Regions from separate parts of the Homo sapiens genome. Here region 1 is linked to region 2. A link means that fine-mapping ties the variant in region 2 to the expression of a gene that starts in the linked region. Tissue or cell type: skeletal muscle. Region 2 holds a variant in brackets; the other region holds the start of a gene. All regions are shown on one strand. Distances are between the middles of the regions.

The links. PIP is the estimated chance that this variant, and not a neighbour inherited with it, causes the effect.
Region 1: AIFM1 starts here. The variant in region 2 is fine-mapped to the expression of AIFM1 in skeletal muscle (GTEx, PIP 0.98).

The regions. Positions count from the first base shown.
Region 1 is chrX:130,163,551-130,169,519 of GRCh38, reverse strand. AIFM1 (apoptosis inducing factor mitochondria associated 1) reads left to right here and starts at 3,679. Exons shown (of 16, transcript NM_004208.4): 1 at 3,679-3,969. The coding sequence starts at 3,864. It also overlaps a transcript of RAB33A not described here. RefSeq lists an enhancer at 3,691-4,030.
Region 2 is chrX:130,297,186-130,303,154 of GRCh38, reverse strand. No RefSeq gene overlaps it. Among named protein-coding and RNA genes, the nearest start is that of ZNF280C, 31 kb to the right of the region's middle. The variant T/G (reference allele first, on the strand shown) is at 3,263.

The sequences.
Region 1 (5,969 bases), 130 kb after region 2:
CAGGAAAACTACCTTATTGTACCTATTGTAAAAAAATTAAATGTACTGTACAATGCCCTTTGTGTTAATTGTGCATTATTAAATTACTTTCAAATACATGCAGTTGTTTTCATAGGTACCTGATTATCATGATTTTGACAGTGTTTTCCAGTCTCTTTTGCCATCAGATATAATTAACTTTGTATTTAATCAATCCATGATTATTGGTTTTTACAAATATCAATAAAAATCAATGCAAGGCTGTTAAAATGTTAAGTAAATATAAATAATTTTTACCTTACTTTGGAATTGATACTTTTTTTTTTTTTTTTTGAGATGGAGTCTCGCTCTGTCACCCGGGCTGGAGTGCAGTGACACAATCTCGGCTCACTGCAAGCTCCGCCTCCCAGGTTCACGCCATTCTCCTGCCTCAGCCTCCCAAGTAGCTGGGACTACAGGCGCCCGCCACCACGCCTGGCTAATTTTTTTGTATTTTTAGTAGAGACGGGGTTTCACTGTGTTAGCCAGGCTGGTCTCGATCTCCGGACCTCGTGATCCGCCCGCCTTGGCCTCCCAAAGTGCTGAGATTACAGGCATGAGCCACCGTGCCCGGCCTGGAATTGATACTTTCAATATTTATCCCCTGGCCTAAAGTGATCCACCCTCCTCGGCCTCCCAAAGTGCTGGGATTACAGGCATGAGCCACAGAGCCTGACCATATTTTCAATATTTATCCAAAGGAGCTCTAGATAAAATGTCACCCATTGCCTGCACTTCTGAACACTGATCTACTCTGCTTAATGGGTAAGGGAGCCCTGGATCATCTTCACCACATAATGACTACTTCCTAGGCCTGGCACAGTGGCTCACACGTGTAATCCCAACACTTTGAGAGGCTGAGGCAGCAGGATTGCTTGAGCCCAGGAGTTCAAGACCAGCCTGGGCAACGTAATGAGACTGTCTCTTAAAGAAAACCAAAAAACAAAACTACTTCCTGGGTTAAACTTCACAGAAGGGTGTCTTTGTAGGCCGGGCGAGGTGGCTCATGCCTGTAATCCAAGCACTTTGGGAGGCCGAGGCGGGCGATCACCTGAGATCAGGAGTTCAAGACCAGCCTGGACAACATTGTGGAACCCCGTCTCTACTAAAAATAGAAAAATTAGCAGGGCGCGGTGGCATCTGCCTGTAATCCCAGCTACTCGGGAGGCTGAGGCAGGAGAATTGCTTGAACCTGGGAGGCAGAAGTTGCAGTGAGCCGAGATACTGCCACTGCACTCCAGCCTGGGTGACAAAGGGAGACTCCGTCTCAAGAAAAAAAAAAAAAAAAAAAGAGTATCTTTGTAATTTCTTTCTTTTTCTTTTTTGAAATAGGGTCTCGCTCTGTCATCCAGGCTGGAGTGCACGGGAGCAATCACTGCTCACTGCAGTCTCGATCTCCTAGGCTCAAGTGATCCTCCCATCTCAGCCTCCTGAGTAGCTGGAACCACAGGCACATACCACCACGCCTGGCTAATTTAAAAAAAAAATGGTAGAGATGATGTCTCATTATGTGCTCAGGCTGGTCTGGAACTCCTGGCCTCAAGCAATCTTCCCACTCGTCCTCCCAAAGTACTGGCATTACAGGCATGAGCCACTGCACCCGGCCCTGTAATTTCATTCTCTATCCCCATTCCACCAAAAAAAAAAAAAAAGTAACTTCATTACCTCCAAAGTTAGGGCCCAACTCTTGCCAGTTCAAATCTGGCCCCCCACCATACTTGCCTGTCTTTATCACTACTTCTTTATTTTTTTCTTTTTGGAGACAGAGTCTTGCTCCATCATCCAGGCTGGAGTGCAGTGGCACAATCTTGGCTCACTGCAGCCTCCACCTGGCAGGTTCAAGCGAGTCTCCTGCCTCAGTCTCCCTAGTAGCTGGGATTACAGGCGCATGCCATGGCGCCCGGCTAATTTTTGGATTTTTTGTAGAGACGGGGTTTCACCATGTTGGCCAGACTGGTCTTAAACTCCTGACCTAAAGTGATTCACCCGCCTAGGCCTCCCAAAGTGCTGGGATTACAGGCATGAGCCACGGAGCCTGACCACATCAATACTTCTTAGTATGTACTCTCTATCATTGTCCCCCGAAAATGTGCTGGGTTTTGGTTTTTTAAAACAGTTCCAAGCCTTTTCATTTAACAAACAGCATGGTGCTTCCTCTAAGACACTTTACAAATATTAGCTCATTTAGTCTTCCGAACACCCTCCTGAGATTTGTAGATGAGGAAAATGAGGCACAATTAAGTGACTTGCCCAGGTGGCAGAGCCAGGATTCAATGTGGGTTGGTCTGGATCCAAGGTCAACATGTTTAACAATGAAAAATGTTATCTTTGGTCCGAAAGTATTCACCATCTGAAATATCAATCCTTTTCCTCTACTGTTTGAATTTTACTACTCATCCTTCAAGACACAACTCAAATAACTTCTTACACGAAGTTCTACCATAGTGATTCCATCCCATAGTCTTCTCTCTTGCTCTGTCCGGCACTACACCAGATATTATTTCAATGACCGGTATATGTCATCTCCCCAACTAGACAGTGGCCACTTCCTATATAGATGCTATGTCCAAATAAACCCATTGTAAACTGAAAATATCGTTAAGTCGAAACTGCATTTAATACCCTGATAAACCCATCATAAAGTCAAAAAACCGTAAGTTGAACCATGCTTAAGTCCAGATGCTCCTCGACTGACATGGGGTTAGGTCTCATTAAACCCATCATAAAGTCGAAAAATTGTAAGTCGAACCATTGTGAGGGGTAAGTCGGGGACCATCCGTACTTTTCATACCCAACAGAGCCCCTTTTATAGTACAATCCAAGAGGTAAGTGCTCAATAAATACTTGTTAAATGAATATGTAAGCTGAATCTTTGAAACAGGCACATTGTATGTTCTGCATGCAGCCAAAACATTATTTCCAATTTAGCTTATATCTGGCAGAGTCAAAACACTTATTTACACTCAGCCCCTCACCCTACTCCCATAACTGAAAGTTCTGCTTAGCAGACTTCTCTTCCCAGAAAGTCCGAGAAGCACGAACGCTTTTTGCTAACATCCTGCTCCCAAGCACAGAAACCACAGCAGGAGACTGTGTGTATCTGTAGCACCTGGTATACAGCATCTAGGACACACAACTGAACTAATAAATAAAGGTGACAGGCGGGAAGAAGAGCGCAGAATTACTTGTCCAGGAAACGGGTTGGGTGGGAAAGAGCCGGCAACTGGTAAAAGATGGAAGTACACGCCGGATCTGGGAAGCCAGGTTCCGCGCCTCGGACTCATGGAAAAACTGGATCTGGATCACTGCAAAAGAATCAGGAAGGCTTCGGTATCAAGTAACTGGTGTCCTAAAACCAAAAAACAAAGTGCGATGCCGGGGCTACGCTGTTGTGAGATGCTGTTATCAGTTCTCGTCACCAACACAGCGGCAGCACCAGGCACAACCGCCAATCAAAGCGGCCCCACGAGTCCCTCCTTGAACAGGTTCCTTAACTCGTTCAGTCCAACACTGTGCCACAAACTCGCGAAAACCGGCTACCTAGAGCCAGCGTCTTTGCGAGCTTGCGGCCAGCTAGTGCATGCGCAAATCCTCTCGCCGTGCGGACCAATCGCAATGCGGCAGCGAGTGCTACGCCTGCGCAGTAGGCCTCCGGTCGCCGTTCCCCTTCCCCGGCTCTAGCAGGCCGGCTTCTCTGTCCAATGCCCACCCGGAGCTGGGAGGAGGAGTCTGCGTAATGTGCGTGTGAAGAGACTGGGGGAGCTGGCCGGGGCTCACGGTGTTTGACCCGTCGGTCGTGCGTGAGAGGAAAGGGAAGGAGGAGGTCCCGAATAGCGGTCGCCGAAATGTTCCGGTGTGGAGGCCTGGCGGCGGGTGCTTTGAAGCAGAAGCTGGTGCCCTTGGTGCGGACCGTGTGCGTCCGAAGCCCGAGGCAGAGGAACCGGCTCCCAGGTGACTGACCCATTCCAGGCAACCTCCAAGTCCGAGGGCCTGGCGCCTTAGGCTCCCTGTGCCTTGCAGCCCTCTACCCCCGCGTCCCCGCGAGAAACTTAACACATAGTCACGTGAATTCCAAATTGGCAGACTCCGAACCCTGAGTCTTGCAAGCGGAGGAATTGGCTCAGCCATGCCGACCTGACCTTCAAGAGATTTGAACCCAGTAGTCGGCTTGAGGCCTTTTCCCGGGAGCGTTTGCTGTTCAGGGATCCCAGAACAACTGGCTGTCGGCGCCTCCCCGGCATCCCCACCCCCCACCCCCCTTTTTAGAGCAATGAGGTCAAGTAGACTTTGTCATTTACCGATTGAGACTTTAAACAGGACGTTTAAGCCCTACGCCTAAGTTTCTTGTGTAAATGAGGGTGTTATCTGCTCAGCCTTCCAAACCACAGATGAGATCCATGGATTTGAATGCCCAGTGAAACAGAAACGGTGCAGGGCAAGTAAGGAGTCGGTTGGTTGTGTACCAGACACCCAGAGAATTGGCCCAGACTTAATTGGAGATGCCTGAGCCGTGTACTTCTTGGTGGTCTTTAAGGCTTCAAAGAAACAGTTTGCAGAACGCATTGTATTTTGTTCTCCATTAAGTTGTTTCATCAAATTTTAGAGCTGGAAGGGATTTTGTGGTAAAGGTCAACCCACTCATTTTATAGATAATAAACTGAGGCACAGAGAGGTGAAATTACTTGCCAAAGGTCACATAGTTAATTAATAGGTAGAGCTAAGGATAGTTTGCTAGCCTCCAGGTCCTTAATCCCTTCGCTGCAACTCCATACTGCTTCCTAAAGTTGACCTCAAAAAGTTAAGAATGAATTCGGGTCTCTTCCCAGTAATTAGCCCATTGTACATCAGATATCCGTGAATTTATCTGAGCATGGCTTGAGCCTGCTTCTTTTCGTACTGCGTTACTTCATGGGGGCAATGAATGATCCACCTGTAGGAGTTGCTTTGAAAAAAAAATCAGTAATCCTTCAATGTCCACCCCTAGGGCATTTGCAATGTCAGAAGTTATCCTTGAGGCTTTTACAATACAGAAACACCTGGGTGCTTTAAAAATAAAAAGTGGAAAATATTTTCCTTGGGTTGTTAGGGTCTTTGCAAATGTGCATTTGAACAGTTTTTCCAGTTGCTATGCACAATGAAAATGTTTCCTGATAGGTGTATTTGAGTTATGTCCTGGGACATACTGCTCTTGGAACTTAAAACCTCTGCTTAGCTTTTAAACTAATGCCTTATCAATGGATGTCATCTTTGAGGGTTTTGTGTATTGAAATGATGGTGCTCTGTGCTTGTTGCACAGAAATTGAGATAACCTGAATTTTTTTTTTTTTTTTTTTTGAGACGGAGTCTCGCTTTGTCGCCCAGGCTGGAGTGCAGTGGCGCGATCTCGGCTCACTGCAATCTCCGCCTCCCGGATTCACGCCATTCTTCTGCCTCAGCCTCCAGAGTAGCTGGGACTACAGGCACCCGCCACCACGCCCGGCTAATTTTTTTTTTTTTTTTTTTGTATTTTTAGTAGAGACAAGGTTTCACCATGTTAACCAGGATGGTCTCGATCTCCTGACCTCGTGATCCGCCCACCTCGGCCTCCCAAAGCGCTGGGATTACAGGCGTGAGCCACCGCGCCCGGCGATAACCTGAATTTTTTCATCCACACTGGCCTTTCAAACTTTGAGTAGTTGTTTTGCTTAAGTCTCACAACTTTTACCAGCATTCTAAAGTCTGACCAAAAGTTCTCATCAATTAAATATGCATTTGCAAAGTTAAGTTGATTTATTAGACATTGGAAAGTGGTTGGTGTTGTTAGAACTACTGAAAAATACAGACTCAAATGGTTTTTTCCACTGCATGTCTTTGTTTGAAGGCAGTCTACTGTAGAATATATTCGGACTTCCTGACATATCCATCCATCTCTTTGCATACACTTGTTCTTTGTCCTTTGGCCGTGCACCAAA
Region 2 (5,969 bases):
TATAATCTTTTCAAAAAATGATTCTGGGAAAACTGGATATCCATGTGCAAAAGAATGTATTTGGCCTCTACCTCATACTGTGTTCAAAAATTAACTCAAAATGGATCAAAGATCTCAAATGTAAGACCTAAACACTCTAAAATTCTTAGAAAGTAACACAGGTGTGAATCCCCATGAACTTGTATTAGGCAATGATTTCTTTAATATAACATTGAAATCACAAACAACAAAAGAAAAAATAGATAAATTGGATTTCATCAAATTGTAAAAGTTCTGTGCCTCTAGGAAACTATCAAGAAGGTAACAAGACAACTTAGTGGATGGAGAAAATATATGCAAGACACATATTTCATAAAGTTGTAGTATCCAGAATACATAAAAACACTTGTAACTTAATAAAAAAATGGGCAACTTCAGAAAAAAATGGGCAAAGGACTTGAATAGACATTTTTTCTTTTTTTCAAGTTCAGATTCCTTTATTTATTTATTTATTTATTTATTATTTATTTTTTATTTTACTTTAAGTTCTGGGATACATGTGCAGAACGTGCAGGTTTGTTACATAGGTGTATATGTGCCATGGTGGTTTGCTGCACCTATCAACCCGTTATCTAGGTTTTAAGCCCCACATGCGTTAGGTATCTGTCCTAATGCTCTCCCTCTCCTTGACCCCCACCCCCCAACAGGCCCCGGTGTGTGATGTTCCCCTCCCTGTGTCCATGTGTTCTCATTGTTCAAAAAAGATAAACCAATGGCCAATAAGCACATGAAGGGGTGCTCAACATCATTAGTCATTAGGGATATACACATCAAAACCATAATGAGATACCACTTCACATCCACTATGGTAGTTATTATTAAAATTTTTTAACAACACTAGTATTTGCAAGGATGTGGAGTATTGGAGCCCTAATACGAGGGTGGTGAGAACATTCTGTAGTACAGCTGATGTGGAAAACAATTTTTTACAGTTTTTTGCAAAGTTTAGCATAGAGTTACTATGTGACTCATCAGTTCACTTCCTAGGTATACACCCAAGAGAATTAAAAAAAATTTTCAAACAATAATGCATCCACAAATGTTCATAACAGCATTATTCTTTTTGTAGTTTTTATTTTAAGTTCATGGGTATATGTGCAGGATGTGCAGGTTTGTTGCATAGGTAAACATGTGTCATGCGAGTTTGCTGTACAGATTATTTCATCACCCAGATATTAAGCCTAATATCCATTAATTATTTTTAGTCATCCTCTCCCTCCTCCCACCTTCCATCCTCCAAAAGGCCCTGGTTTGTGTTGTTCCCCTCTATGTGTCCATGTGTTCTCATCATTTAGCTCCCACTTATCAGTGAGAACATGTGGTATTTGGTTTTCTGTTCCTGCATTAACTTGCTAAGGATAATAGCCTCCAGCTCTATTCATGTCCCTGCAAAGGACATGATCTCATTCTTTTTTATGGCTGCATAGTATTCCATGGTGAATATGTATCACATTTTTTTAATCCAGTTTATCATTGGCAGATATTTGAGTTGGTTCCATGTCTTTGCTAAGCAGTATTATTCTTAATAGACAAAAAGTAAAAACAACCTAAATGATCATCTGATAAATGGATGAACAAAATCAGATATAGCCATAAAATGGAATATTATACAGCCATAAAAAGTAGTGAAGTATAGCTACATGCTACCACATGAAAAAAAAAAAAACCTTGAAAACATTATGCTTAGTGAAAAAAGCCAGACACGAAACTTGCATATTCTTTAATTCCACTTATATGAAATGTACAGAATAAGCAAATCTAGGGAGACAGCAAGTTGATTAGTGGTAGATCACATTTTGGGATAATGGAGAGACACTGAATCACACATAAAGTGCACAGCTTCTATTTGAGGTGATGAAAATGTGCTATAATTGGCTGTGGTGATGTTTGCACGTATCTGTGACTATATAAAAAACATAGAATTATAGACTTTGTGTGGGTAAATTCTATGGTACATGAATTATATCTTAATAAAATGCATACATATCTAAAAATGGTTGCTCTTTTATATATTGTCATTGAATAACCCAAAACCAAAGTTAAGGAAACAATTGCACTGAAACTTGTCTCATAAAGGATAAGGTACTTAGGAATAAATATAACCAAGGAAGTACAAGATTAATACACTGAAAACTACAAAATATTACAGAGAAGAATTAAAGAAGATTTAAGTACAAAGATATCTGGTTCCATGAATTAGAAGATTTAATATTGTTAAGATGGCAATACTCACAAGATTTATCAAAATGCCAATGCCCCCCCCTTTTTTGCAGAAAACCTTGAAAATATGATGGTGTGTAAAATAAGCCAATGACAAGAAACTACATATTGTACCACTCCATTTATATAAAATGTACAGAATAGGCAAATCTATAGAAATATCAAGAATGGAGGTTGCTTATAGCTGGGGAAGAAAAGGAGGTTAGTAATCTACTACTTAATGGGTATAAGTTTCCTCTTCAGGGTGGTTAAAATGTTCCGGCATTAGATTGATGACAGTTGCACAATATTTTGAATATACTAAAAACGACTGAACTGTATACTTTAAAATGATTACTCTTATGGTGTGTGAATTTTATGTCTCAATTAAAAATGTTTTCCATAATGAGAAATATAGAAACCAATAAAAACTTATGTTTTACTTCTAATCCCACCAAACAGCCAGTAAGGACTTTTGGTATATTTTCTTTTCTTTCTAATGTGTGTGTGTGTGTGTGTGTGTGTGTACACATATAGCATATATTTCAAAACTGAAAATGAGATCTTATTTTAAGTACGAGTTTATAACCTAATTATATGAAAAAATTTATACCCTTATCATGTGGATACAGCAGTATAATTAACCTCTGTGTACCTACCATTTAGATCAACAAATATTCAACTCACAGCCAATTTTGCCTTCTCCTTACTTCTTGATTAATTTGAAGCAAATCCCAGATATCAATTCATATTGATGGTATCGGCTGCAGCAGGGAGGCGTGGCTGGGGCTGCCCACTCCATGGAGCAGGCAGGAGCCCCACCCTCCTGGGTAGGGCTGCAGCTGCCCAAACTGTAGCTGTATATCTGAACCTCCCTGTGCTCTTGGTGGGTGCCAGGAGCAGGCAGGATCTCTGCCCTCTCAAATACAGCTGCAGCTGCCTGACCTGTGGTTGTAAACGCGGGCGTCTCTCTCCACTCCACAGACAGTAGTTGGGGACAAGCGGAAGTCCCGCCCCTTCTGAA[T/G]TGGCTGGACTGGAGCTCCCTGGATGCAGCTGCAGCCATGCTCCTAGGTGCAGAACCCTGGCGGCTCTGCAACCTGCACCCTCGAGGGTCTGGAAGGCCCTAGCCCCCTGTGTCCCCGCAGGCTCGTGCGTGTTTTCTGCTGCTGCCTGGCTTCTCTCTGCTCCCAGTACTCCCTCTAATCTTGGAGCCGGGTTGGGGCTGAGCTCCTGCTCTGTCCCGCCCTGGACTGGTGTGCACAGGCTCGGTGCAGTGTTGACACGCAGGCCCCCTGCTGTCTGGGACCCTCCAAACTTTAGGCACCAATGAGCACAAGAGGGAGGCCAAGATGGGGCTGGGGGCAGCTCAGCACTGGCCTGCAGGTGCCCCTTGGCTCTAGCGGTCTGGGCGCCATAGGCAGCAGCAGGAAGCAGACAGGCTCCTGGGCAGGAAGGGATGGGTCCCGGGTAAGGCCCCAACTTCAGGCCAGGGAGAACCTGAAGGCTGGAGGCCAGCCTGCCAGACCTGCTGACCAGAGTGGGGTCTTGTGGTGCCTCTTCCAGGCTGCCCATGGCCGCCCATGGACCAATCGGTATGAACTTCCTCCCCTCTGAGTTCCATAAAAGCCCAGGCTCAGCCAGAGCAGGGCAGAGGACAGAGAGATGATGGAATGACCAGTGGCAGAGAGGAGCTACCCTCTCTGCTGAGAGCTTCAGAGACCCGCAGAGACCTCTGAATGACCTGCCAGCAGAGAGGAGCCAGCTTCTCCAGGGCCTCTTCTCTGTTGAGAGCTGAACACTCCACAGGATGACCTGCCTAGAGAGGATCTGCCCACTGCGGGTCTCCTCTGAGTTGTTCTAACACTAAATAAAGCTCCTCTTCATCTTATTCACCCTTCACTTGTCTGCATACCTCATTCTTCCTGGACACAGGTCAAGAATTCGGGCAAAGGTGCCACCAGTCACAGAGGTTTCTGGGAAGAAAATTAATACCCTAAAGATCTGGTAACAATTTTATCCATAAATATTTCACATACATATCTAAAAGATAAGGACACCTCTAAAAAATAACAATAATACCATTAATATACCTATAATTTTTATAATTTTTAATAACATCAACAGTCAGTGTTCAGATTTCCCCCAGCTGTATCATGAATAATTTTGTTACAGTTGATGTGTTCAAATTGAGATCCAAATAAGTACCACACACTATGTTTGTTTAATATGTGTTAAGCATCTTTGAATCTAGAATGCCTCCCTCCTTCTCTTTCAATTTATGTGTTGAGGCAATACTAGAATGTCTGTCCTATAGAATTTTCCATAGTCTAGGTTTAAAAAAATTATCATTTAATGTGTTATTTATCCTCTGTATTTTCTGTAAATTATTATGTACATTTAAAGGCTTGATCAGAGTTTAGTTTGAATTTTTGCAAGAATACTTCATATGTGGTGTTGTATATGTGCCATCAGGGCAATAATACCTGCTTGTCTGTTGTTGTGAAGTTAACCACCATTGCAGATTCTTTCCATCCACACTGTTTCATTGGGGATAATAATTTCTATCGTTTCTTCTTCACGTATTATTTGGAATACTTCTGTGAAGAGAAATGTCCTTTTAGTAACTATGATTAATCTGAGGTACATCATGCATATGAAAGGTGGAATAATTACTTGTTTCATTCTCTTTTATTTTGTAGTCTTCAAAATAATAAGCTGATTCCCTAGCATTGTTTTAGAATATCAATCTGAACAAATGCATTGAAATAGATTTGATATGTTCTAATTCATTATAGTTATTGTACTAATTAATATTCAAGTTGTCCTCTCTTTGAATCTTCAAGTTGGCCCTTGAGTCCTTTTTGACATGATTCAGTGGTCTTTGGTACTTAATTTCTGGTATGACAGGATGTTCCAGGAGTATCTTGTAATATCTTACCTCAATTCTATTTAATGTTTAACGAAAGCCTAGTCAATTGGCTCATTTATGGCCTGGCACATAAAATAAACTAGGGTATATCATTTGCCTATTAGAGACATCTGCCTCTAAAATGGGGCTTACAAACAATGAATTAAAAGATGGTAACAGACATGAAATAAAACCTCTTTGTGGTGAGGGAGGATATGTATATATTTAATCCCTGATACTCATTAGCCCCTAAGGATATTCTGCTTCTTGAAACTATAATCCCTCTGACAATTCCTGGACATTTCATCATCAGTCAAGAGGATAAGACTTTATGAGAATATGATTACTGAAAGATTTTTGTTGGTAGGCTTCATTGAAGGTGGCTTATTTCTTGTTCACCTGTGCAAGAAGTTGCTATCTAGAAAATTACTTCCTTACTCTTAAGAATTGTAAACAGAAAGTCATTCTCTCCCAACCACTCAAAACTACCTATTTGGTTGCTTTGGTTAGCAATATTTGTATTAGCTAAAATATTAGGGTGAATTGAGCCACCTTATGAATAAAGGCAATTGGCAGGTATTTTGGAGTACTGAAAGTTTTCTTTAATTTTTGCACGTGATACTTCTAATTCTAATTGATACATCATGCAATCTGCCTCTTTCCTAGCTAGAATATTTGAAAGCTATTTTTCTAAGACTCCTGGACATGGATGACAACTCTTTTCTTTAGGAAAAACTGAAGCATTCTCCAGAGGGAAGCCAGCACATATTTTTTCATATTTTATTTACACATACTCTCTGTATTTATTTTAAGATCCAGTTTA